7 linked regions of the Homo sapiens genome follow. The protein of the gene in region 7 interacts with the protein of the main gene of each other region in a pairwise test. Each region holds a gene or a part of one and is shown on either strand. Other genes may lie near its edges. The genes, in order: FMR1, MAP4K4, EXOC1, BACH1, ITSN1, TRIM55 and KIF5A.

Region 1 (3,500 bases), on a different chromosome or scaffold from region 7:
CTTCAGAGTTCAAGGCAGCTTGCCTCGAGATTTCATGAACAGTTTATCGTAAGAGAAGATCTGATGGGTCTAGCTATTGGTACTCATGGTGCTAATATTCAGCAAGCTAGAAAAGTACCTGGGGTCACTGCTATTGATCTAGATGAAGATACCTGCACATTTCATATTTATGGAGAGGTAAATATTTTACTGCATAGTTTTTTTTTCCCCAAACAAGTATTTCAGCTGGCTAATCTTTTGTCTTAAAATGTTTCCCCTTTTATTAGGATCAGGATGCAGTGAAAAAAGCTAGAAGCTTTCTCGAATTTGCTGAAGATGTAATACAAGTTCCAAGGAACTTAGTAGGTAAGTCAGAAGTATCTGTTGACATATAGTACAACAACTAAGTTTAGGTAAACAGTTTATTTATAGTGATAGAATTCCATTTTTTCTTACTGGAGGGTATCATTTAATTGAAACATAGTCTTTGAAATATGATCTGTTCTTTTTTTTTATTATTTAAGTTTTAGGGTACATGTGCACAATGTGCAGGTTAGTTACATATGTATACACGTGACATGCTGGTGCGCTGCACCCACTAACTTGTCATCTAGCATTAGGTATATCTCCCAACGCTATCCCTCCCCCCTCCCCCCACCCCACAACAGTCCCCAGAGTGTGATGTTCCCCTTCCTGTGTCCATGTGTTCTCATTGTTCAATCGATCTGTTCTTACAGCATACAAAAAAATATTTGTTAAGTATGATGCTCAAAGGTTACATTTTCAGAAGGTATTCAAAAGAGATTGCTTTTCTAGTTCAAACCTACTAATACCTGAAAGGATAAATCTTGCCCAGCCCTCCTGACTGTATACCTTTTATATCTTAAAATTAAATAATTTTTCAAAATGAATGATATTTGGGGACTTTATGATTTGAAATAGATTTGTATTTGATCTTTCTTATGGGACTATAAAATGATAGCATTCATTTTAATTATCTCAGGGTTGAAGATCTGAACATAGGTTACTTAAATCTAAAAAGTTCCAAAGCTAGAAGAAACTTCAGATGTCTCTGGGACTTTCTGCAAAGTCAATAGTAATTCTTCATTTTGACTTGAGTAGTGTTTTATCACCATCACCATCGTGAGTATCAGCAAATATTTAGGAGCTCTTCACCAATACTCCTAAATGCTGCAGATATCTTTAGTAGAACATATCAAAACCAGGTGCAGTTTTATCAAGAAAGCTACATATGTTTTTAATTTGTAAATAAAATTGGGACATACTGCCTATATGTTTTTTATCTTTTAAACTTGAGATCATGGCCATTTTATATAAAGTAATACATGTTCTTTGGAAACTTTAAAGAAGAAAGCAAGGACTTCTCATACATTCTGTTTACGTAGTTTCAATGCTAATTTAGCCTGCTTTTTTGTCAGCATAGACTCATAAACATCTTCCTTGTCATTAACAAACACTAGAAATGATAAATGTATCTCCCAAAGAAAATTAGCTTGAAGATAAAGTGCAAATAGTAGGAAAATAATGCAGAAGTGTTAGCTCAACTGTGTACTACAGACAACTGGAGAAATGTGTTTGTAATGTTACTAAGGTAACTTGCATACCAATTGTATGTGTACAGAATGTATGCATAGCGCAAGATAAAGTGCTAATCTCAAGACAGTTGGGTGATGAATAATATTTATTTTCTTCTTTACAGCTTGTCAAGCAATTGCATACCTTTTGTAGTTAGAAAGGTTATTGTAAATTTAGGAATTCTTATGGAAAAAGAGCTGGTAGTTGTTTTGTTTTTTTTTTTTAATAGCAAATGAGTAGAGAATTATGTGTCAGATTCATTAAAGTTGGTTTTGAAGATGGCATGATGGTAGTGGGGAAAGTGCTTGGGCATTGGAGTTGGATCTGGATTTCAGTCCTACTTTATTCTTTGGTGGCAATGTGAGCGTGGGTCACTGTCTTAGCCCCCCTGAGAATTATTTTTCTTACCTATCAAATGTGATAATAGGATCCACCTCATAGAGTTGATGTGATAATTAAATTGGAAGATATAGTAGGGGACAATTCTGGACACAGTAGGGGACTCTGTTCTTCACCTTATTCAAAACAACTCCATTTCAGTAGAACAGAATCACAGTAAATTGCTCTTTGGGATTTGGAAATAAGTGTAATGTAGAATTGGATTATTTGCTATTAAATATTAAAAGTAGATTCTACCTGTGGTTACCTGGAAAGAAGAGGATCTCAGAAATAACCAGAAAGACTGCTAAAAGTAAATCAGCCTTGTTTTTGTTTTGTTGTTTCTAGTTAGTAAAATGAGATAATTCTGTTTTAGAGATGGTCCACTGCAACACTGGGAACGTTGGAACTTTTCAGAAAGCATTTTTGTGTAAGATTCTGCAAGGCAGATCTTTAGAGAGGTGTCATAATCAGTTTTGCATGTGTTTTGTTTGAGTCAACCAACGTTATTTGTGATCTCTATTTTTCACAAACTCTCTTTGGTATGTGCACTAATTTATCTTTTCATTAAAATTGGATTCTTCACTCACTAAGAATGAATTGGTATGACTATTCAGTCAGCTATAGTTAACACACAGTACTTAGGATAATTAAGATATTATCTTAATAAAAACATCCCCAAATCTCATTTTTCATTTTGTTAACTCACTTAGATCTTTATTAAAGTCAACATTAATTCATGAAAATGTAAGTGTTGCAGTTTAAAATCAAACTGTGTGAAGACTCCAAGTAGCTTCTCTCACCTCACCTTTCCCCTTTTCGTTATAGAAGAACAGAAATAATTGACAGAAGGACCTAGACCAAGAATCCTGATTTAATGGTGTCAGATCTGTTCTATGACCAGTCAAAGAGTTTCTAGGGGTGAATGAGGCAGCCACACACAGCAAGAATGTCAAAGCTATGCTCTGATTACAAGAGCCACAAGAATTTTTTGTGAGAAGGCTTTTCACTGAGTTCTTATCTAGCATTGGCTCAAAGCAAATTTTTGCTTCCATCTTTTCCCCCAACTTTGCCTTGAGCTTTGCCTTTAAAGGCGAAAAGGAAAAAATGGAAGATGAGATGGTGAGGGCAAGCACATGGTGGATGTGGCCAATGTAAGGGTACTTAGGTACCTTGGGTGAGCCCTCAGAATCAGATGTAGTTCACATGTACATTTCCAGAATTAGTAATTCTTAAGTTTGTAATGTCTTGCTTTACCACTCGTGTCATGATGCAAATGAAAGCAGTCATTTTCCAGTAATGTATATGATTGTAAAATAAATAAGGAAATGATCAAGTACCTATTTTTTACTGGTACTTGAAATCCCAAGTTTTAATAGATGTTACTGAAAAATACTTAAATTGGTTTAAAGCTTTTTCATTGTGGTTTTGAGTTATCTTAAAGTGGGTTTTCTTAATCTTTTACTCTGTGACTAATCCCTTCACTTTTTAATACATTGCTAAAGTTTGTAAGTAATGCACAGGAGTGATACTCTGTTAACACATTG
Region 2 (2,742 bases), on a different chromosome or scaffold from region 7:
CTTTGAAACTTGGCCCTGAAGAACGTTTCCACCTTTTGCGTCACATTGACAGACTAGCAGTCAGCCCAGTTCTCAGATTTAAACATTTAGTCATTTAATGCAAGAAAGAAGAAGCTACACATATGTCCTTGGCAGCTGGTCCTGCTTGCCCGATACATCCCAAACACAAAGTCACTTCACCTCTACCCACTGTCTTCTGCAACCCTACAACTCAGTTTCAAGTGGAGTTTTGCCTACAGATTATCTCCCAAATCTGTGACCTTGAAAATCTCTACAGCTCAGACCTAATCCAGGATTTTGTCAGCTTGTTGGCTTATACTTTCCTAAGTATGTTTACCATAGCTGCAACTATAGCATTCTTTGAATTTCAGGCATTTAAATATTTTTATCATGCATGTCATGTCCTTTAAGATTTATTAATAAATGGCACAAAAATTCTATTTATGGGTTATATGAAGTAATTAATACATTTTTTGTTGATTTTTAAAAAGAAATTAGGTTGTTAAGGAGTCTTCCGTGATGCTCATTGTGTTTTTTAAAGACATTTATTTATTAGAAGGTGTTAACAGTAGAAGTGGAAAGAAATAACTTCAGAAACATCCATTTTTTTCCTTTGTTGTCTCACAATATGCCAACGTGTAAGGAGTTAGTAGTAACAAGCCTGAGTTGTAATAAAAATTGGCTGCAGATGGTCACTCCTTACAAATTATAAATTGATAATTGCCCCAGAGGTTTTTGTGGGTTGTTTTTGTTTGTTTGTTTGTTTTGGTGACGGAGTCTTGCTCTGTCGCCCAGGATGGAGTGCAGTGGCGTGATCTCGGCTCACTGCAACCTGAACCTCCTGGGTGCAAGCAATTCTCTTCCTCAGCCTCCTGAGTAGCTGGGATTACAGGAGCCCACCACCATGCCCAGCTAATTTTTTGTGTTTTTAGTAGAGATGCGGTTTCACTATCTTGGCCAGGCTGGTCTTGAACTCCTGACCTCATGGTCCGCCTACGTCGGCCTCCCAAAGTGCTGGGATTACAGGCATGAGCCACCATGCCCAGCCTTTTTATTTATTTATTTATTTTTTGAGACAGAGTCTTGCTCTGTTGCCCAGGCTGGAATGCAGTGGTGTGACCTTGGCTCACTGCAGCCTCCACCTCCCGGGTTCAAGTGATTCTCATGCCTCAGCCTCCTGAGTAGCTGGGATTACAGGTGTGTGCCACCACATGGTATTTTTAGTAGAGATGGGTTTTGTCATGTTGGCCAGACTGGTCTGGAACTCCTGGCCTCCCAAAGTGCTGGGATTACAGGTGTGAGCCACTGCACCTGGCCTCAGAGTTTCTTTTGAAAAGGCTCTTTGGGAGTCTAAGCTTCTCGTACTTGACAGTGTTGAGGATGATGGTGGCTTAGATTCCCTGGCTGGAAGTGCTTCATGACCATGGTAACCATTCCCTCTCTTTTCTTGCTTTTGCAGGTGTTCTTTGCCTCTGTTCGGTCTGGTGGCAGCAGTCAGGTTTATTTCATGACCTTAGGCAGGACTTCTCTTCTGAGCTGGTAGAAGCAGTGTGATCCAGGGATTACTGGCCTCCAGAGTCTTCAAGATCCTGAGAACTTGGAATTCCTTGTAACTGGAGCTCGGAGCTGCACCGAGGGCAACCAGGACAGCTGTGTGTGCAGACCTCATGTGTTGGGTTCTCTCCCCTCCTTCCTGTTCCTCTTATATACCAGTTTATCCCCATTCTTTTTTTTTTTCTTACTCCAAAATAAATCAAGGCTGCAATGCAGCTGGTGCTGTTCAGATTCTACCATCAGGTGCTATAAGTGTTTGGGATTGAGCATCATACTGGAAAGCAAACACCTTTCCTCCAGCTCCAGAATTCCTTGTCTCTGAATGACTCTGTCTTGTGGGTGTCTGACAGTGGCGACGATGAACATGCCGTTGGTTTTATTGGCAGTGGGCACAAGGAGGTGAGAAGTGGTGGTAAAAGGAGCGGAGTGCTGAAGCAGAGAGCAGATTTAATATAGTAACATTAACAGTGTATTTAATTGACATTTCTTTTTTGTAATGTGACGATATGTGGACAAAGAAGAAGATGCAGGTTTAAGAAGTTAATATTTATAAAATGTGAAAGACACAGTTACTAGGATAACTTTTTTGTGGGTGGGGCTTGGGAGATGGGGTGGGGTGGGTTAAGGGGTCCCATTTTGTTTCTTTGGATTTGGGGTGGGGGTCCTGGCCAAGAACTCAGTCATTTTTCTGTGTACCAGGTTGCCTAAATCATGTGCAGATGGTTCTAAAAAAAAAAAAAAAAAAAAAAAAAAAAGGAAAAAAAAAAAGAAAAAGAAAACGTGTGCATTTTGTATAATGGCCAGAACTTTGTCGTGTGACAGTATTAGCACTGCCTCAGTTAAAGGTTTAATTTTTGTTTAAACCTAGACGTGCAACAAAAGTTTTACCACAGTCTGCACTTGCAGAAGAAAGAAAAAAATTCAAACCACATGTTTATTTTTTTTTTGCCTACCTCATTGTTCTTAATGCATTGAGAGGTGATTTAGTTTATATGTTTTTGGAAGAAACCATTAATGTTTAATTTAATCTTAATACCAAAACGACCAGATTGAAGTTTGACTTTTATTGTCACAAATCAGCAGGCACAAGAACTGTCCATGAAGATGGGAAATAGCCTTAAGGCTGATGCAGTTTACTTACAAGTTTAGAAACCAGAATGCTTTGTTTTTACCAGATTCACCATTAGA
Region 3 (3,500 bases), on a different chromosome or scaffold from region 7:
CATGTATGAAATACTACACATTTGCATTGAAAAATTGTAATACATATCCACACAAATATGTATATGAAAAATAAAATAGAGATTTAAAATTATTTTAAGTTGATGTTTGAAAAGATGCTGAGTTAGATAAGAAAAAGGAGATAAGTGGAAACCTATTTTTATAACAGTTTTATTGAGATTATGTATCATAAAATTTACCCTTTTCAATTGTATAATTGAGTGATTTTTGGCATATTCACAAGGTTGTATAACCATCATTACTATCTAGTTGAAAGACATTGTCATCACCCCAAAAAAGAAACTCCATACCCATTAACAGTCAATCCTCGTTTCCACCTTCCCTTCCAGCTCCCGAAAACCACTTATATTTCTGTATCTATGGATTTTCCTACTCTGGATATTTCATATAAATGGAATCATACAATACGTGGTCTTTTGTGGCTGACTCCTTTCACTTAGCATAATCTTTTCAAGATTCATCAATATTTTAGCATGTTTCATTACTTCATTTCCTTTTTTTCTTTTTTTTTTTTTTTTTTTTTTTTTTTGGAGACAGAGTCTGGCTCTGTCTCCCAGGCTGTAGTGCAGTGGCGCAGTCTCGGCTCACTGCAAGCTCCGCCTCCCGAGTTCATGCCATTCTCCTGCCTCAGCCTCTCCCAGTAGCTGGGACTACAGGCACCCACCACCATGCCCGGCTAATTTTTTTGTATTTTTAGTAGAGACGGGGTTTCACCGTGGTCTCGATCTCCTGACCTCTTGATCCGCCCGCCTCGGCCTCCCAAAGAGCTGGGATTACAAGCGTGAGCCACCGCCCGTGCCCGGCCCTTTGTTTTTTTTGCAGCCGAATAATAATCCATTGTATGGATATACCACATTTTGCTTATGTATCATTTGATGGACATTTCTGTTATTTCCATTTTTTGGCTATTGCAAATAGTGCTACCATGAACATTCATGTACAAATTTTTGTGTGGACATATGTTTTCAGTTCTCCTGGAGTGGAATTGTTGGATTATAAGGTAGCCCATGTTTCACTTTATGAGGAGTCACCAAGCTGTTTTCCAAAGTGGCTGCACCATTTTACAATCCCACCAGCAATGTATGAGAGTTCTGTTTCCTCTCATCTTCACCAACACTTGTTACACCAACACTTGTTATTTTCTATCGTTTTTATTTTAACCACCCTCATGGGTGTAAAGTGGTTGATACCTCATTGTGGTTTTGATTTGCATTTCCCTAGTGGCCAGTGATGTTAAGCATGTTTTCATATGCTTATTGGCCATTTGTATATCTTTGGAAAAATGTCTGTTCAGGTCTTTTATTCAGTTTTTAATGGGGTTATTTGTCTTCTTATTGTTGTAAGGGTTCTTTATGTAGAAAACTATATTAAAAGTTTGAGCAGTGGGTTGAAGATTTTTTTCTTAAATCTTGTGTGTGTGTGTATACTTGGTGAGCATTTCCAAACATTTTAGAGTTTGATAACACTGGTTCTCTAATTTTATTTCCAAACTTACAGCTTTGTATTTTTGTGATATAGGTGTATTCATATATTAAATCATTTTTCCTAGGCTTGTTAACCAAAAATTATTTTCAAATCATAAATTCAGAAGTATAAGATGGAATGATGTTGAGGGTGAGCTTAATATCTATACTCCACATTTTTCAGCTGAGAAAAGATGACAGCAATCAAGCATGCATTACAAAGAGACATTTTTACACCAAATGATGAACGCCTGCTGAGCATTGTGAATGTCTGCAAAGCAGGAAAAAAGAAAAAGAACTGTTTTTTATGTGCCACAGGTGGGTATTTAGTAAGAAAGAGTACTTGTTTTGTATCCTTTTATTATTTAGAAGATATTTCCTCTTTGTTTTGAATATCCTCATTGTCTCTGTAATTGGAAAAATTGTTGGGTCAACACATTCCTAGTTAACACTTGGCTTTGACAGGCTGTTAATTGTTGTCAATCTGGTGGCAGTGAAATAGTATCTCATTGTGGTTTTAAATTATATTTCCCTATAATGATGAGATTGAGCATCTTCTCATGAATTTCTTAGTCATTTCATTCTGTTGTGTATGAAATTTACCTGTTTAAGCCTTTTACTCATTTTTCTGTTGTGTTGCTTGTCCTTTTACTGATTTGTACAAGTTCTTTCTATAATCTGGTTATCAACCTTTTGTTGGTTGTATGCATCCCAGTTAGTGGCTTGTCTTTTCACTTTTTATGATGCCTGTTAATGAAATTTATAATTTAAACTAAATGAAATTAATTAATCCTTTATGGCTTTCCCTTTTGGTGTCTTAAAAGATCCTTCCCTGTATCTTTTGTGCAGTCATAAAAATATTTTCCTAAATTCAAAAGTTTTATAATTTTGCCTTTTACAGTTTAGTCTTAGTTCACCTGTGTTGACATCTGTCATGGTGTGTGTGAGCATTTCTGGTTGTCATCTTATATGTTATTTTTATTTTGTTTTTGTTCTTTATTCCACCTAAATTTTAGAAACAACTTGTCGAGTTTCAGACTTTGTTGGGATTTTGATTGGAATTGTTTTGAACCTATAGTTCAATTTGGAGAGAACTTGCATTTTTATTGTATTGAATCTTTGTGTCCATGAACATGGTACAGTTCTCTATTTATCTAGGTGTTTTTTAACTTTATAAGTTTCATCATTTTCTCTAAAGGTTTGTCATGTATATTCTTGGATTTACTCCTGAGTATTGGTTTATTCTTAGATTTTATTTGATAGTCGTGAAAGCGCTTATTAACATTAATACATTTTAAAATCATATATTGTTAGAATTCTACAATGAATTGTTGGTGTTTTATATGGATGTCTATCAATCTTGCCAAACTTTCTTATTAATTCTAATTATATGTAGACTTTTTGAAAGTAGTGATATTTTTCTTCCTTCCTTTATAGTTTTTATATCTTTTATTTTTGTTGGTTTAGTTTCCTAGTTAGGACTATCAATACAGTCTCCATCTCAAGGAGAATGACTTCATTTTCAAGCATGGTATTTGGTATAGGGTTTTTATAGCTATACTTTACAGTGTTAAGTAAGTTCCCTTCTATTCCTGGTTTCTTACACTTTTTTAAAAAATCATGAATGGGAGTTGAATTTTATCAACTGCTTTTTCATATCATTGATATCATAAAATTTTCTTCCTTGTTAGTGTAGTATATAATTGTACTTGGTTTTTGAAATGATAAATTGACTTTTTAGAATGACCTCACTCAATCGTAATGTATTTGTATTAGGCCATTCTTGCATTGCTATAAAGAAATTCTTAGGCCAGGAGCAGTGGCTCATGCCTGTAATTCCAGCACTTAGGGAAGCTGAGGTGGGCAGATCGCTGGAGCCCAGGAGTTTAATTAAGACCAGCCTGGGCAACATAGTAAGAACTTTATATATAAATGTATTGTTGCTCTTTGAAATGGTATTTTGCTCTTTCAAGCCTCACAGACTTTACTTATGTCAATCATTCTTTAGATTTTTACCT
Region 4 (3,500 bases), on a different chromosome or scaffold from region 7:
TCAGCCTCCCAAAGTGCTGGGATTACAGACATGAGCCACCATGCCTGGCCTTTTCTTGTTTTCTCTTTTCCCTCCCTCCCACTCTTTGGAATCACAGTGGACTCATGGATTAATTTTTTCTGATTCAATTTGTTAGGATAAGTAATAGTCATTATTCTTTTTGATGTTGACATTTTTCAAATTTGGCCTGGGAGAGCCCGTTCAAGCCAGCTCCTGTCCTGTTGACATAACCATCTAGCACTTGCCATGGTCTCACTTTTTAACCTCTATTGTTTCAAGATTTGGAATCACCCATTTCTTTAAAACTCCTGGTTTCTTCTAGCAGTTATATTGGACTTTGGAAAGCCTACCTGCTGCTGGAGTATTATTCCTTCTGGGCCTTTTTCAGTGGACAGAGCTAGGAAATATATGCATCTGTGTATAAAATAAAGTTCATTATATCATGAATTCATATATATCAGGCTTCAGTAAATGAAAGTAAAAAGTACATTAGAAATCCTGAGTTTATGTAGTATTTCCAGTCCAAATTTAGCAGTATAGAGCTTTTGTCTTCACTTCTGTGTTTATGTTTAATCTCTCATCATTTACAGGAAAAATTTTGGCTCCAATTACATTAGTGTATTGTTTCCTTTATAATATACAGTAAGTTCTCACTTAACATGAAATGATGGATAATGAAACCAGTTTTTTTCCTCATCAACTTTATAATGAAAGGATGTTGTAAAAATGAGAACACTTGGACACAGGGTGGGGAACATCACACACCGGGGCCTGTCGTCGGGTGGGGGAGTGGGGAGGGATAGCATTAGGAGATATACCTAATGTGCCGGGTGCGGTGGCTCAGGAGTTCGAGGCTAGCCTGGCCAACATGGTGGTGCAAACCTGTAATCCCAGCTACTCGGGAGGCTGAGGCAGGAGAATCGCTTGAACCTGGGAGGTGGAGGTTGCGGTGAGCTGAGATCATGCCATTGCACTCCAGCCTGGGCTACAAGAGCGAAACTCCGTCTTAAAACAAAAACAAAAACAAAAACAAAAACAAAAAAAACGAGTTAATGGGTGCAGCACACTAACATGGCACATGTATACATATGTAACAAACCTGCACGTTGTGCACATGTACCCTAGAACTTAAAGTATAATATAAATAAACAATAAAATAAAAAAGAAAGGATGTGGAACAAAATGTTTATTGAGGACCTGGTGTGCGTTGTTTCTCTTAAAGTCAGTTTCCAAAAACCTGTCGATGATTTTAAGTGAGGGCACACTGTATAAAAAGTAAGAAAATTAGACAATCAGTATTACTATTAACAGTAAACAAATTGAGCAGAATTTGAGATTTATTTGCTTTTTTATGCTTAAATATTTCCCAGTGTGAAGCTTTAAAGTTATTTGAAATATTTGTGTTACCAATTTGGCATACAATTAATTTTTTTTTCTATTTATATTACTGGGATTTACTCTACATTTTTTGAGACAGGGTTTCACTCTGTCACCCAGGCTAGAGTGCAGTGGCACAGTCATGACTCACTGCAGCCTTGACTTCTTGGGATCAAGCAAATCCTCTCATATCAGCCTTCTGAGTAGCCAGGACTACAGGTGCGCACCACCATGCCCGGGTAATTTTTTTGTGAAGGTGAGGTTTCGCTGTGTTGCCCAGGCTCCTCTCAAAACTCCTGGGCTCAATCGATCCTCCTGCCTTGGCCTCCCAAAGTGCTGAGATTTTAGGCATGAGCCACCATGCCTGGCCTACATTTTTAATTTGTTTTATTTTGAATGTAAAACGTTTATATGGTTCAAACATTAAAACTATATTTTAAAAAATATATACTCCAAATCTTGATCTCATCTTCTCCTTATACCCTATTCATAGCTACTTCCTATAGGTAACCATTTTCATTAGTTTCTGGATTTTTTTTTCCCTGTGTTTCTTTTCTAAAAATGTGTTAACATTTTATGTCTACTCTTATTATCCATCCTGCTGCATGGAAGTATTTTATATACATTTTTCTGTACTTTTTAAACTTAAGAATTGATTTATAGGAAATATTTTTTCTTAGTTCAGAGAGGTTGTCATTCGTTTTCCAGCTCCATAGTACTCAGTAGTGACTGTAATACAGTTCAAACCAGTCTTCTGTGGGTGGACAGTTGGGATCCTGCAGTGAATAACTGTATACTGTTTCATGTTTAAGGAGCTGTGTCTCTAGGACACATTCCTAGAAGTGGGATTGTTGGATCAAGGGTAAATACATACATAATTTTATTAGATATTAACAGATTCCCCTCCTTAGGAATTGTCATATTTGGCCTTCCAGCAGCAGTATATGTGTGTGTGTCTGTCCACACCCTCAGTCAAGATTTGTTGTCAGCTTTTGGGTTTTTTCCAGTCTGATAGTGAGATACCATGATATCTCGTGGTAGCTTTTATTTTTATCTTATGAGTGAAAATGAGCATTTTTGCTTATATTTCTCAGTGCCATTTGCAGATTTCTCTGAACTGCCGTTCAGAGGTTTTACTTACTAAGGAACTATTAGTGACCATTTTCTAACAGTGAGTACTCTTTACCCTATCATAAAATTGTCACTTGTACTTTTGGTGCCAAATTCTTCTATATCTTTATTGGGTGAGTTATATTTATGATCTTTAAAAAAATTATATTTGAATAAATATTGTGCACTAGCTATTCAAAATAAGGATTTAGATGCAAAGGTTTTTTTTTTTTTTTTTTTTTGAGACAGAGTCTTGCTCTGTCACCCAGGCTGGAGTGCAGCGGCACAATCTCGGCTCACCGCAACCTCCGTCTCCCAGGCTCAAGTGATTCCCCTGCCTCAGCCTGCCCTTTTAGCTAGGTTTACAGGTGTGTGCCACCATGCCCAGCTAATTTTTTTGTATTTTTATTAGAGACAGGGTTTCACCATGTTGGCTAAGCTGGTCTCGAACTCCTGACCTCACATGACCCGCCCACCTCAGCCTCCCAAAGTGCTGGGATTACAGGCGTGAGCCACTGTGCCCAGCCTGTAAAGATTTTTTGTTGGTATAAAATCCAGAATGGTACCAGAATGCCAATTTTATTCCTTTTTAAGAAATAGCTCTAATTAAAGGTGCAGCACTTCAAACGTGATTTATACAGTTGTTTTTATAGGAAAATGGAAATATATTGTAGGGATAGGTAGCAGGACACTAATAGTGAGTCCCACTCATGACTGTAAGTAGTGACTTTGGGAGGTATCTTAAATACTGATGTCATTAAGTAATTAACTTGAATTACTTGTATTTTACTTTTAGTTATTAAGCTGACTGCTATTATAGTAAATATGTGTCTTAAACTTAGAGTGAAATGGAAACTGCTTAGAAGCTTAGCTGTGTAGGAGTTAAAGTGCAGGGGAACAGATGGGAACATTTAATTTATAGAAATAATTCTGGTGGAGTTCTAGGGCTGTGCCTATTTGTTTTAGTTGTTGTGAAGAAGCAAGCCATCTTGTATACTTAAAGAATGATGTCA
Region 5 (2,861 bases), on a different chromosome or scaffold from region 7:
CCAGCTAAGAAAAAGGCGAACTCCCACTATATAAAGGGAAAAGGTTGTATTCATTTCATGTTCCTCATGAAATCTCTGCTGTATGTTTATGGAATGGCCATGACTAAATGTATATATGGTATGTAAGAGGCCATGCTGTTAAATGTTGCATAAACTAACACAGATTCTGTAGTCAAAAATATTTAACTTGTTATTGTAAAATGTGATTTGTCATTGAGAGATTATTTTTCTGTATGTATATGAGAGTATTTTAGGAATCTAATTTAAGTGCATAAAACTATAGAAAAAAATTTAAAACCTATTCCAAGAGTAGAAAATGCTTAATGAGATTACTTGGGTTCAACTCAACTAAATTTCTTATATTAAAAAAAAATTCCAAGTTGTATATGTTAGAAATCAAATGAGTCATTTTTTTTCCTGCAGGAAATATGATAAATTTCAGTGTAATGGATGGTGGCGTGATCAAATGAAAAGTATCCTGTAGCTATGACCTCGCATGGGACCTTGGTGTTGCATTAAAAATGGATTTTTGCAGATCACATATCTGAGAGGGTACTTGTGTCAGGAAGGATGAGAGGATAGGGAGCCTGTTTTTCATCAGATCCATGTGCCACGCAGGCTTCCTTGGGTTCTAGTGGATTTGTTAGGGATCTGGGGCTGACGCAGCTATCCCACTAGAGAGGCCACTCTCTGACTTCCAGGTCGCCCTTTCTACTTCTGTATCTGGATTGATTCAGTTTATCCCTAATTAGCGTTTGCGTTTTCCATGAAATTTCCTGATGCATCCTCACTGTCTTCAACTGTTGCATAGCCAGGTGGGTGGATGGATGGTTTAGGGTTTCTGAGTTAAGCCGTTTTGGGGCAGGCTTCTGGATGCCCATGTTTCCATGGAGACCCCAGGGGGAAGATGCCTTCCTCCCGTCTGCATTCCCAGAAAAGGATCAGAAGTCCAGGCTGCTTCTGGGGCACAGACTTTCTGTACTTGGCCACCAGAAGTGCCCCTTAGGCCACCTAAGGAGGATTCTGTGAAACTCAATGTCTAAACCCCTGAGAAAGGCATTCAGAAATGATTTCAGGAGGGGGCAACCCCAGGAGTCCAGCCTCCCCTGGCAGCCTGGAAATACTGCAGTAACAAAAAGAGCTGGTTTCTGGTGATCTGAATGCATTGTGTTTGGGGGTGACACCGCTGGTGGAAGGTTGAGGGCCTGTGGTCTGAAAAGACATCTGAAGAATGTGTTAGGTTTTCAACATTTCTTTGAACAGGCTGCGTGCATCTTAATGCTGTCAACCAGCAACTGGAGCCCCTTTTTTGAGAGGCCCGAACCAGTAAAGCTGCTGACTTCAGGAGTATGGGAAGCTGTGATTTCTGGAAGCTTCCTGGAATCTATTTAGGTGCATGAATAATCTGCAAATCACTTAGAGGCACTGTCCATGTGGTCCATAACTGGCTTTATTCCCAAAGATGGAGCTGTTCAGAGATTTCTTTGTTCAGGCGCAGCCTTGGAAGGCCACCTAAGGCCTGCCAGCAGAGGAGATGAGCTCTGGTCTACCAACCCCAAACAGGCCCTGACTCTCCTTCCTTAGAACGATGCCCTCTGGCTGGGGTGGCAAGAGGGCTGTGAGTGGAAACAAGTCAGCCAGTCAACTGTCCCTTGGGCCTTGGTTGTTTCAAAAAAGTCTGGGGACAAGAAAAGCTAGAACATGGGGCCCTCCCTTCCCAGGAGTGCTAGCGAACCCTCCCAGATAGCCTTTGCCTGTTTGGAAAAGAATGTAATCCATCAGAACGTGAGCTCCTTGTGCTTCCAGTGACAAGCGGGCCACAGTGCTGGTGGCATGTTGCTTCCCTCACAGCCCTGCCCAGGGGTAGGACCAGGCCCGCCCCTTGATGGATGTGCTGTTGATTGTAATATACTTCTGTTGCCAAATAATGGTACTGTTTAATTTTCCATAAAAGAGAGACTATATTGTCTGATATGTAATGTTAATGGAATTCTAAGAATTACTAGACACTATTATAAATTGTAGACTTACGTATTTGTCTAAAGGTTTGATGAAGCAGGGCCAAAACATTGTTTCTTCTTTTTTGTTTGAAAGAAGCTGAGGTTTGTTTTTGCTGTTTGAGTGTTCCTTTGGCAACTTATTATGTGTGAAATGTTAAATTTTACCGATTAAGATGATGGTAACTGAGACCTTTCTTTAAACCAGTAGCAACATCAGTACAAATTGCTCTTCCTGTGTATCTTGAACCTAAAAAGAACAATCTCTTCAAAAACAAAAACAAAAACAAAAAACAACTCTTTGGTCATTTTGACCTGTGTGGTTTAAATTCAAATAGTTCATGAATAAAAGGAGAAAAGCCAATCTGTTATAGTGGATTATTTTGGGTTCTTTCTGCTTCACTCTTTTCTGAGAGCACAGGAAGCTAACAGCCCTGCAAATGGTGTCTCTTCCTCTTCCCACAGATAAGATTGTAGCTGTGCAAGGAAAATTGTGCAGAAATAAACCTAGAAAACAAAACCAACCAACAACCCTTTCAGCTGTCCTGCGGCTTCAGATAAATGTTAGCTAACACCAAGCAGAAATAGATTTCTGTGTACGAAGTCTTTGTGAGAACAGGAGAAGTTTTGTGTTGTACAGCATAAGAAATTCTGAGGGTGGGGTTGAGAGGGCGGTGCAAAAAGCTGATTTTCTTATAAAGACATTCAGAAGGGTCGCTGAATTTCCAGGAAGAAGTTTCTAACACACGTAACTCCACGTGTTCAGCACTTGGGTGATCTATAATTCTGCGTTCCATAAAACCCAACGCTGAATTGTATTAGGTTGTTTCCTCCTGTTCTGGTTTTAAGGCCATTCCTACCTAT
Region 6 (3,500 bases), on a different chromosome or scaffold from region 7:
AGAGATGTTAAAACTTGCAGTATTGGTAAAACTACAAAACACATCTTCACCTTAGCTATGAAGTTGGCTTGGTGCAGCTGCCAAAAATAGTACCCAGGCCTGGGAAGTAAATTGCGTAAAAGCAATGAACCAAATTTCCAACAATAAAGCTCATAGTTGAGTGAACTAGGGATGCTTTTGTGATTTTCTGTGATTTTGTTATGCTGTTTTTTCTTGAACTTGAGACTTTCCTGTGGGACAATTTTACTTGGTAGCAAAACCACAAGTTGCACAGAGCACTTGGCCACATGTCTGGGAGGAAACGCAGTTGTCCCCTGGGGGCAGACAGCCTTACTAGACCAGAATCTTGAGCCTCAGGGTACATTAGGTAACACTGGAATGACCTTGGATATACAGAATGAAAAGAGTTCAGCTGTGGCTATTGGAAGGGGGTCGGGGGGGGTGACCAATCACAGACTGGGATGTTGTCAGTCAACTCTGACCTCCTCCAGAAAGGCTGGAGACTGTAAGTCTCCACAAAACCTAGCATTCTTTTTTTTTTTTTTTTTTTGAGATGGAGTTTTGCTTTGTTTCCCAGGCTGGAGTGCAGTGGCGTGATCTTGGCTCACTACAAGCTCTGCCTCCCAGGTTCACGCCATTCTCCTGTCTCAGCCTCCCAAGTAGCTGGGACTACAGGCACCTGCCACCACGCCCAGCTAATTTTTTTGTATTTTTAGTAGAGATGGGGTTTCACCGTGTTAGCCAGGATAGTCTCGATCTCCTGACCTCTTGATCCACCCGCCTCGGCTTCCCAAAGTGCTAGGATTACAGGCATGAGCCACTGCGCCCAGCCAAAACTTGGCATTCTTATCCAGAATTCTGCATGGTGCCAGACTAGCCACAGTTGGGAGTGGGAGATGGTAAGAGAAGGTACTATTTTGGCTAATATTAATAATTAATATAATAATAATTAACTTTAAAATATAACAAGTAAAACTACTATGTGCTGCATGCCAGACACTGTTCAGGGTGCCTAACACATGAATCATGTGCAATTCTTTAATTCTCACAATAATCCGGTGAGGTGTTGATTATTATAATTACTGCTACCCTATTAAAGCTTTTAGTGCCTTAAAGTAATCAACATACACAACTTTTAGAATTCATTACTACTGGGCCTCTGAAGAGAAATGCAGTCTCCACTCTGTTCTCTCTTTACCCACCCCCAAGCCTCATTCCCCAGAGTCAACCACTTTTAATTCTTTTAGCTGTTTTTCTGCTATTTATCACCAATGACATGTGCATACTACTGGTATGCTCCTATTCTTTGATTTTTCAATTTTAGACATTTTCTATTGACTTTCCACTGTAGACAATTAGGACTGAGCCCTCACATGGCTGGGCTTTACCTCTACTTGGGAATTCTTTTACTCTCCCCCTGGGTTGAACCCCTTGCTCCCTGGATTCCAGGTCTCCTTGTTTGGTGGCTTACTCTCTTATTTCTATGGAGCACATCCTCAAGTAATCTCTTAAAACATGCACAAAGTCCTCCTCTTTTCAGCCTCTCCCAGTCTGTCACCGCCTACTTCCACCTTCAGGACTACTGGCTCCTGCAGTTCCAGAGCCTTTCCAGGGTTCCATAGCTCAAGTCAGCTTGCTTATTGTAAGCTTCTCACTGCAGGAATGTAACAGAACTAAGATGCAACTCAAGTAGGTCATGTCCCTTCATCCAGATGTTCCTAATTTCCAACATTTGGTTGACATCTCTCATCTGCTGTCATCTGTGCTCACTTTTTGTCCTTATTGATTTATGCCCTTTTATTTCCTTATCCTCATTTCACTGGGATTTCAGCAGAATAAATACATAAATACATACATACATATATAAATACATAAATAAATACATGCTTGTGTTCATTCTGCCACATTTAATTAGAAGACCCTTAATCTGATATTTGATACGAGTAAAAACTGAGACCAGAAGAGGTTAAGTAACTTGTCTAAGGCCACATAGCCACTACATGGAGAAGCTGAGCTGAAATGAAGCTTTAAGATCAGTTTGGGCAGGCACAGTGGCTCACGCCTATAATCCCAGCACTTTGGGAGGCTGAGGTGGACAGATCACCTGAGGTCAGGAGTTTGAGACCAGCCTGACCAACATGGTGAAACTCCATCTGTACTAAAAATACAAAAAAATTAGCCAGGTGTGGTGGCAGGCACCTGTAATCCCAGCAACTTGGGAGACTGAGGCAAGAGAAATGCTTGAACCCGGGAAGGTGGAGGTTGCGGTGAGCTGAGATTGAGCCATTGCACTCCAGCCTGGGCGACAAGCAAAACTCCATCTCAAAAAAAATATCAGTTTGACTACAAAGTTACTACTTCAATTGCCTCACCAAGACCAGATGCCCACTCCTCAGGAAACTCTAGGGTGGCCCCGGGAACCTCAGAGACCAGAGACAGCAGGCTACATACTTCTCAGTCTAGCCTACACTGAACGGTGAGGGGCCACAGCCAACATTTAGCACTGGGCCCTGACCACAGCTGTGAGCTTGGCTGCTCTCACCTCATAAACATGTATTTATGTCATTCTTTTACATGCCAAATCGGTCCCAAGTCAGTTACATGTTTGAAGTTGTACAGAGGTTTCATTATATGCTCATCTATGAGTAAGTGGTGCCTCTGGGGCTGGGCTACAACCTAAATAAGAAAAACCCAATGAGGAATATGGGAAATTGTTCTCAGTGTATACAGCACCATGAAAAAAATAAATAAATTGAATCACAAACAAAACTAAATGTAGAGCCTTATGGCTGTTTTCACATTTTCAATATTTGCATATACTGCATAGACCTGTGCTCTATGACGCAATCTCTGGTCACAGCTGTTGATATCAGAACAGCATGTGGGACCCAAGCTGCCCACTCTTGCTTAGCCCACATTAATAATAAGGTGGAGATACCTACGAGGGAAGGGTTTAGAGGGGAAGAAGCCTTTGACCAGGCAGAGACCAACTTGCCAGTCCCAACCCCAGAGGGCACTGTCATTTATTAAAGGAGTAATCAGGATGTGGTCTGGTCTCTTCCTCTGCCACTCAGGAGTGCCAGGTGATCCCAGGCTTTCCCCATATTTGCCATGCCTTCTCCAGCTGGGTGGTGTTACACTAGAGCACAGGGAATACTGTCCATTTAATAGGTCAAATTCCCTTTCATTGTCTCACTCATTTGTGCAACAAATATTTATGGAGCCACTGCCTCTGTGCAAGGCACTGTTCCGAGTACTGGAGATGCAGCAAAAAAAAAAAAAGACTCATCATGGCCCCTGCCCTTATGGAGCTGATATTCTAGTGGAGGAAACAGACAGACCTGAGAGGAGGATAATTTTCTCAATTGTGGAGTTGACTTCCTTATTTGAGTTCCAAATAATGTGGTCAAATCAGAAGGTCATAGACTTCATGGAAAGCATATTGCTGCAAGACCAGACAGAAATTCCTTTTGCAACAGTCAGATTCTAAAATTTTGAAA
Region 7 (4,134 bases):
CTGTCCCATTCCTTATGTTGGACTCTTTTCTTTCAGTTCCCTTAAGATTCAAGGTAGGTTAGAGGTGTAGCCCCAATGTGGGAAACCCCCTGAGTTCTGAATAGTTAGGTCTTGTCTGGCCAGGCTATCAGCCTCTTACTTTTGTCCCATAGTGTCTTAAGTGACCTTAACCACTCACCAGACAGTTGCTGAGCAGAACTTTCCTTTCCTCCTCCTTCTCCCATCCACCCTGCCCTTCCTCTTTGCCTAGAACCTCAACTCCTGCAGTCCAACTCTCTGTTGGCCAGCAGAGGCCTGTGACATGGAGAAAAATCAATTTGGCCAGCTTCTTGGTGGTTCTTTCCAGGGGCTGCAGCAGGAGTCTGACCCAAAGGAAGGAAGGACAAGGAATCTCTGGGCTTGGCATTTCTTTCGTTTTTCTTCCCCCACACCTTTTTTTTTTTGGCCAGGGAAGGGGGCTGAAGTATTGGGACTCTATCCTCCAATGGTTACTGAGACAGAAAACACACACTCCCGTAGGTATCTGAATTTGCCTGAAACCCAAATGCCGGCTTTGCCTCAGACTTCAAAGTCTCTCTGGCCTTACCCATCCCCATCATTGCCCCTCCTTCACTGCTTTCTGACTCCCTTTCTCTTGCAAAGATGTTTCCCACCCATCTTCCTCCCATCCTCAGCCTAGGACACAAAAATAAGTATTGTATCTGCTTTTGAATTCCCATAACCCAGAATGGGAGTTTATCTTCCCTGAAACTGGGGACCTGGTGTGTACGTTGGGGAGACAGTATAGTGCACCTTTGGATGTGGAAGGGGAAGGGAGTAGCCAGAACCTCCCACGACACCCAACTTCATAGGAGTACAGGCAGGGGTCCCCCCAGAAAGCTGAGTGGGTTGGGAGTCCAGCTTCCGTGCATGTGGGGCATGGGATGGGCGTAGGGGGAGAATGAGAAGTGTGATCCCAGTTTGGAGAGAGGACTGTGACGGGTTGGGGGATGCCCTGGAATAAAGGGAGAGGGAGATCTGTTGACCCTTTTCGCTACACAGGCGACAGGCCCACCTCAGTCCCCTTATCCCTTCCAGGGGGTGGAGTCTGAGGGAGGGACAAACAGGTCGGGGGTATAGGGGTGGGATGCAGTGAGTTGGGTGGGGAAGGGTCGAGGGCAAGGTTATCTCCGAACGTTAGGGGTGGGGGAGGGAGGAGAGGAGCGGTGAGGTTCCACCCTTCGGGGGTCGACGTCGAGCCAGCGTCCCCAGTGGAGGGAGCCCCGCCCCCGCTCCTCCATCGCGGCCCCGCCCAGGCCCGCAGCGCGGCGCTGCAGCGCGAGGGGCGGAGAGGCAGAGAGCCCGAAAGGACCAGACGCCCAGGTCGCCCGCATCCCGCTGCCGCAGGAGAGAGACAGCGCGCCCCGGCCCTGCTCCCCAGGCTTCGCCCGGGCGCCCTCAACTCTGTCCCCAGAGACTGAGCACCTGTCCTCCGCCTCGGCCTCTGCTGAGAGCCCTCTCCTCTGGAGCACACACCACCCCTGCAGCCCAAGAAGAGTCCCAGCCCCACGCCGGCTACCACCATGGCGGAGACCAACAACGAATGTAGCATCAAGGTGCTCTGCCGATTCCGGCCCCTGAACCAGGCTGAGATTCTGCGGGGAGACAAGTTCATCCCCATTTTCCAAGGGGACGACAGCGTCGTTATTGGGGTGAGTGTCGCCCAGGAGGGAATTCGGGGAGGGGGCAGGTGGCTGAATCTCCCCGCCCCCCGCAGAGCCTTAGTCTCTGCTGGTCCCTTTGCTCCCCCTCCCCGCCGCTCATCCTTCATCCTCTTCCCCGCAGCCCCTCCTCTCCCCTGCATCAGGATGGCTGGGTGTGGCCTGGCCAGGCCAGCGGCCGAGTCTCTGCAGAGTGGCAGGGGGCTGCTTTCCTACCTTCGGGAGATCCAACTCCCCTTTGCTGCTGTCTGCAGCGTCTCCACCCGTTAGAACCAGTCCCATGTTTTTCTGATGTTTTCCCCTTCTCCACCACCCGCTCCCCAAGAGAAAGCGCATCTTCCCTTTGTTATTGGCTCAGATCTCTACCCCCACCTCCCGGAAGGTAAGGCGGAAGACTTTTGGGTGGATTAGATGGGAGGTGAGCAGTCCAGGGTCTCTGCAGAGTGTGGATGGAAGTGGGCTCTAAGACCAAACCTTCCATCATTCCCTAAAGTAGTTATAGCCTGGATTTTTGTGTGTGTGTTGTGGGGAGTAGGTCTGATGCAGGGTTTACTGGGAAAGAAATCATTGATGCCACACCCAATCTTGGGGGGAGCCTCTGGAATCCTAAGGTCAGGTCTGCCTTTTGGTCCCAGGTACAGTAGGAAGAGGGTTTCAGATTCCCCAACTGACCCCCCTAAAGAAAAATGCCCAAACCCTGAGATCCTAGTCAGTACCTGCTTATTCATCCTTTCTCTTGAGGATCCAATAGAAAGTAGCCATCCAGCTCTACCTCATCATGACAGCCCTACCCAAGGAGGATATCTTAAGGGAACTAATATTAACAGTGGGCCTGTTACTCTACGTATATTATTTAACCCCCAAAACAACATTCAGAAGTAGTATCAATATTTCCATTTTACAGATGCAGAAATTGAGGCCCAAAGAACTTGAATAACTTTCTCAAGGTCATGCTATTCATCCATGGATCTGAACCTAAATCTGTGACTGCAAACCTCCCATCTCTTCTATCACATTGCCTACCCAGGTTTCTGTTCTGCACCTTTATCTGTAATGGCCCAAAGGGAAATTCTAGGCCTTGCCCACTCCCCCTGAGGTTGGTAGGGACCTCAGGCTGTGTGTGGGGAGAAAAGATCTGGGGTCGAGTCCTGTAGGGCTTGAGGGGTGCTGGGCCAGGAAACAAAAACTAGCTTGAGGAGGGAGGGGCATGTACGAGGGCAGTCAAGGTCAGAGGTGCTTCTTATGTATCTTTATCCACAGTGCTTGGCACAGAGCACCTGGACACAGGCTTGTTAAAGGAATGAAGGAAAGAAGGGGAGGAAGCCTGGGCCTTCTGAGTCAGTGAGAATGGGACTTTGAATAAACATGCTTCGGGGGAGACCTGCTTACCAGTCCCCAAGGGCCCCAGTCTGTCACCACCTTGCACCCTTACCCACACTGTTAACTCAAATGGATGCTTTTGGTCTCTCTCTCTCTCTCTCTCTCTCTCTCTCTCTCTGTGTATGTATTTGCCACATGGAGAGGGCCTCTGTTTCTTTTTGCTTCAGGGACCTCGCTGGCCCTGCAGTCTGTTCAGTCTGGCTGGGCTAAAAACAAAACAAAACAAAACAAAACAACCACAAAACAACTCCTGGATCAACTCTGGAGGACCCCTCTCAGAGTGTCCTGGATAGCCAGCATTAGTTGTGAGAGTTGGAGCTTCAGATCCCCCTGAGACATAAAGGCTGAGAAACAGGAGGAGGGTGATGATGGGGGCAAAACTTTTAGGCCCAATTTCCTTGCTCTGGGAGGTTTTTCCAGTAAGACTGAACCAACTCCTTTAGGCTCTCTGGGCCATCCTAGTATAGTGGGATGGGGCAGGGGGTGATGTTGGTAAGAGGGGTGTGGTGTCGATCTGTTGTTAGCCCAGCTAAACAGGAGAGACACACAGTGGGAGGTGGGCAAGGAGGAAAGATGAATAGAAGCCCCAGGCCCCCTGCCAATTCAGATTCCATCTCAGCTCCACAGCTGGATCTTCCTTGTCTGTTTTGCCTGATATCTGTAGGGCTGTACCTTTGTCTTGCTCGTATCTTCCCTCACCCTAGCCCTCCCTGTCAATCTCTCACTTGAAGATAAATGCTTACGGGGGGGCCATTTTGTCTTAGGCAACATCCTTGGAGTTTGCTTTTTCAGACTTAATATTCATTCATCATTTAGGGAATGAGGGCTACAGGAGACATGATTTTTAGGAGACCCTTGAGGGTCCCAACAAGGGAAGGAAATTCCTACTCCTTTTTCTCTTTTCCCCTCTAGCTCTTTTTGGAGCCCACCAGGTCGGGAGCTGGCTTAGGAATTAATGGGGGAGGCTGCTTCAGGATGTCTAGGAAGGTGCGGGAAGAGTGAAGGTGGGAGAGATAATCTTTCCCAATGCAGCCCCTACTCCTTCCTGTGACTG

What was found.
Region 1: the proteins of KIF5A (region 7) and FMR1 interact in a two-hybrid assay, tested with the Homo sapiens proteins (one large-scale study listed by IntAct).
Region 2: the proteins of KIF5A (region 7) and MAP4K4 interact in a two-hybrid assay, tested with the Homo sapiens proteins (one large-scale study listed by BioGRID and IntAct).
Region 3: the proteins of KIF5A (region 7) and EXOC1 interact in a two-hybrid assay, tested with the Homo sapiens proteins (2 studies listed by BioGRID and IntAct).
Region 4: the proteins of KIF5A (region 7) and BACH1 interact in a two-hybrid assay, tested with the Homo sapiens proteins (one large-scale study listed by BioGRID and IntAct).
Region 5: the proteins of KIF5A (region 7) and ITSN1 interact in a two-hybrid assay, tested with the Homo sapiens proteins (2 studies listed by BioGRID and IntAct).
Region 6: the proteins of KIF5A (region 7) and TRIM55 interact in a two-hybrid assay, tested with the Homo sapiens proteins (one large-scale study listed by BioGRID and IntAct).

What each region holds. Positions count from the first base shown.
Region 1 is NC_000023.11:147,932,419-147,935,918, forward strand, and holds part of FMR1 (fragile X messenger ribonucleoprotein 1), read left to right. Parts: intron 1-6; coding exon 7-177; intron 178-266; coding exon 267-345; intron 346-3,500.
Region 2 is NC_000002.12:101,889,707-101,892,448, forward strand, and holds part of MAP4K4 (mitogen-activated protein kinase kinase kinase kinase 4), read left to right. Parts: intron 1-1,459; coding exon 1,460-1,543; 3' UTR 1,544-2,742.
Region 3 is NC_000004.12:55,856,648-55,860,147, forward strand, and holds part of EXOC1 (exocyst complex component 1), read left to right. Parts: intron 1-1,666; 5' UTR 1,667-1,676; coding exon 1,677-1,800; intron 1,801-3,500.
Region 4 is NC_000021.9:29,336,922-29,340,421, forward strand, and holds part of BACH1 (transcription regulator protein BACH1), read left to right. Parts: intron 1-3,500. UniProt on the Homo sapiens protein: Transcriptional regulator that acts as a repressor or activator, depending on the context. Binds to NF-E2 DNA binding sites. Plays important roles in coordinating transcription activation and repression by MAFK.
Region 5 is NC_000021.9:33,897,501-33,900,361, forward strand, and holds the end of ITSN1 (intersectin-1), read left to right. Parts: 3' UTR 1-2,361; downstream 2,362-2,861. UniProt on the Homo sapiens protein: Adapter protein that provides a link between the endocytic membrane traffic and the actin assembly machinery. Acts as a guanine nucleotide exchange factor (GEF) for CDC42, and thereby stimulates actin nucleation mediated by WASL and the ARP2/3 complex.
Region 6 is NC_000008.11:66,130,129-66,133,628, forward strand, and holds part of TRIM55 (tripartite motif-containing protein 55), read left to right. Parts: intron 1-3,500. UniProt on the Homo sapiens protein: E3 ubiquitin ligase that plays an important role in regulating cardiac development and contractility, muscle growth, metabolism, and fiber-type differentiation.
Region 7 is NC_000012.12:57,548,710-57,552,843, forward strand, and holds the start of KIF5A (kinesin heavy chain isoform 5A), read left to right. Parts: upstream 1-1,334; 5' UTR 1,335-1,562; coding exon 1,563-1,691; intron 1,692-4,134. UniProt on the Homo sapiens protein: Microtubule-dependent motor required for slow axonal transport of neurofilament proteins (NFH, NFM and NFL). Can induce formation of neurite-like membrane protrusions in non-neuronal cells in a ZFYVE27-dependent manner.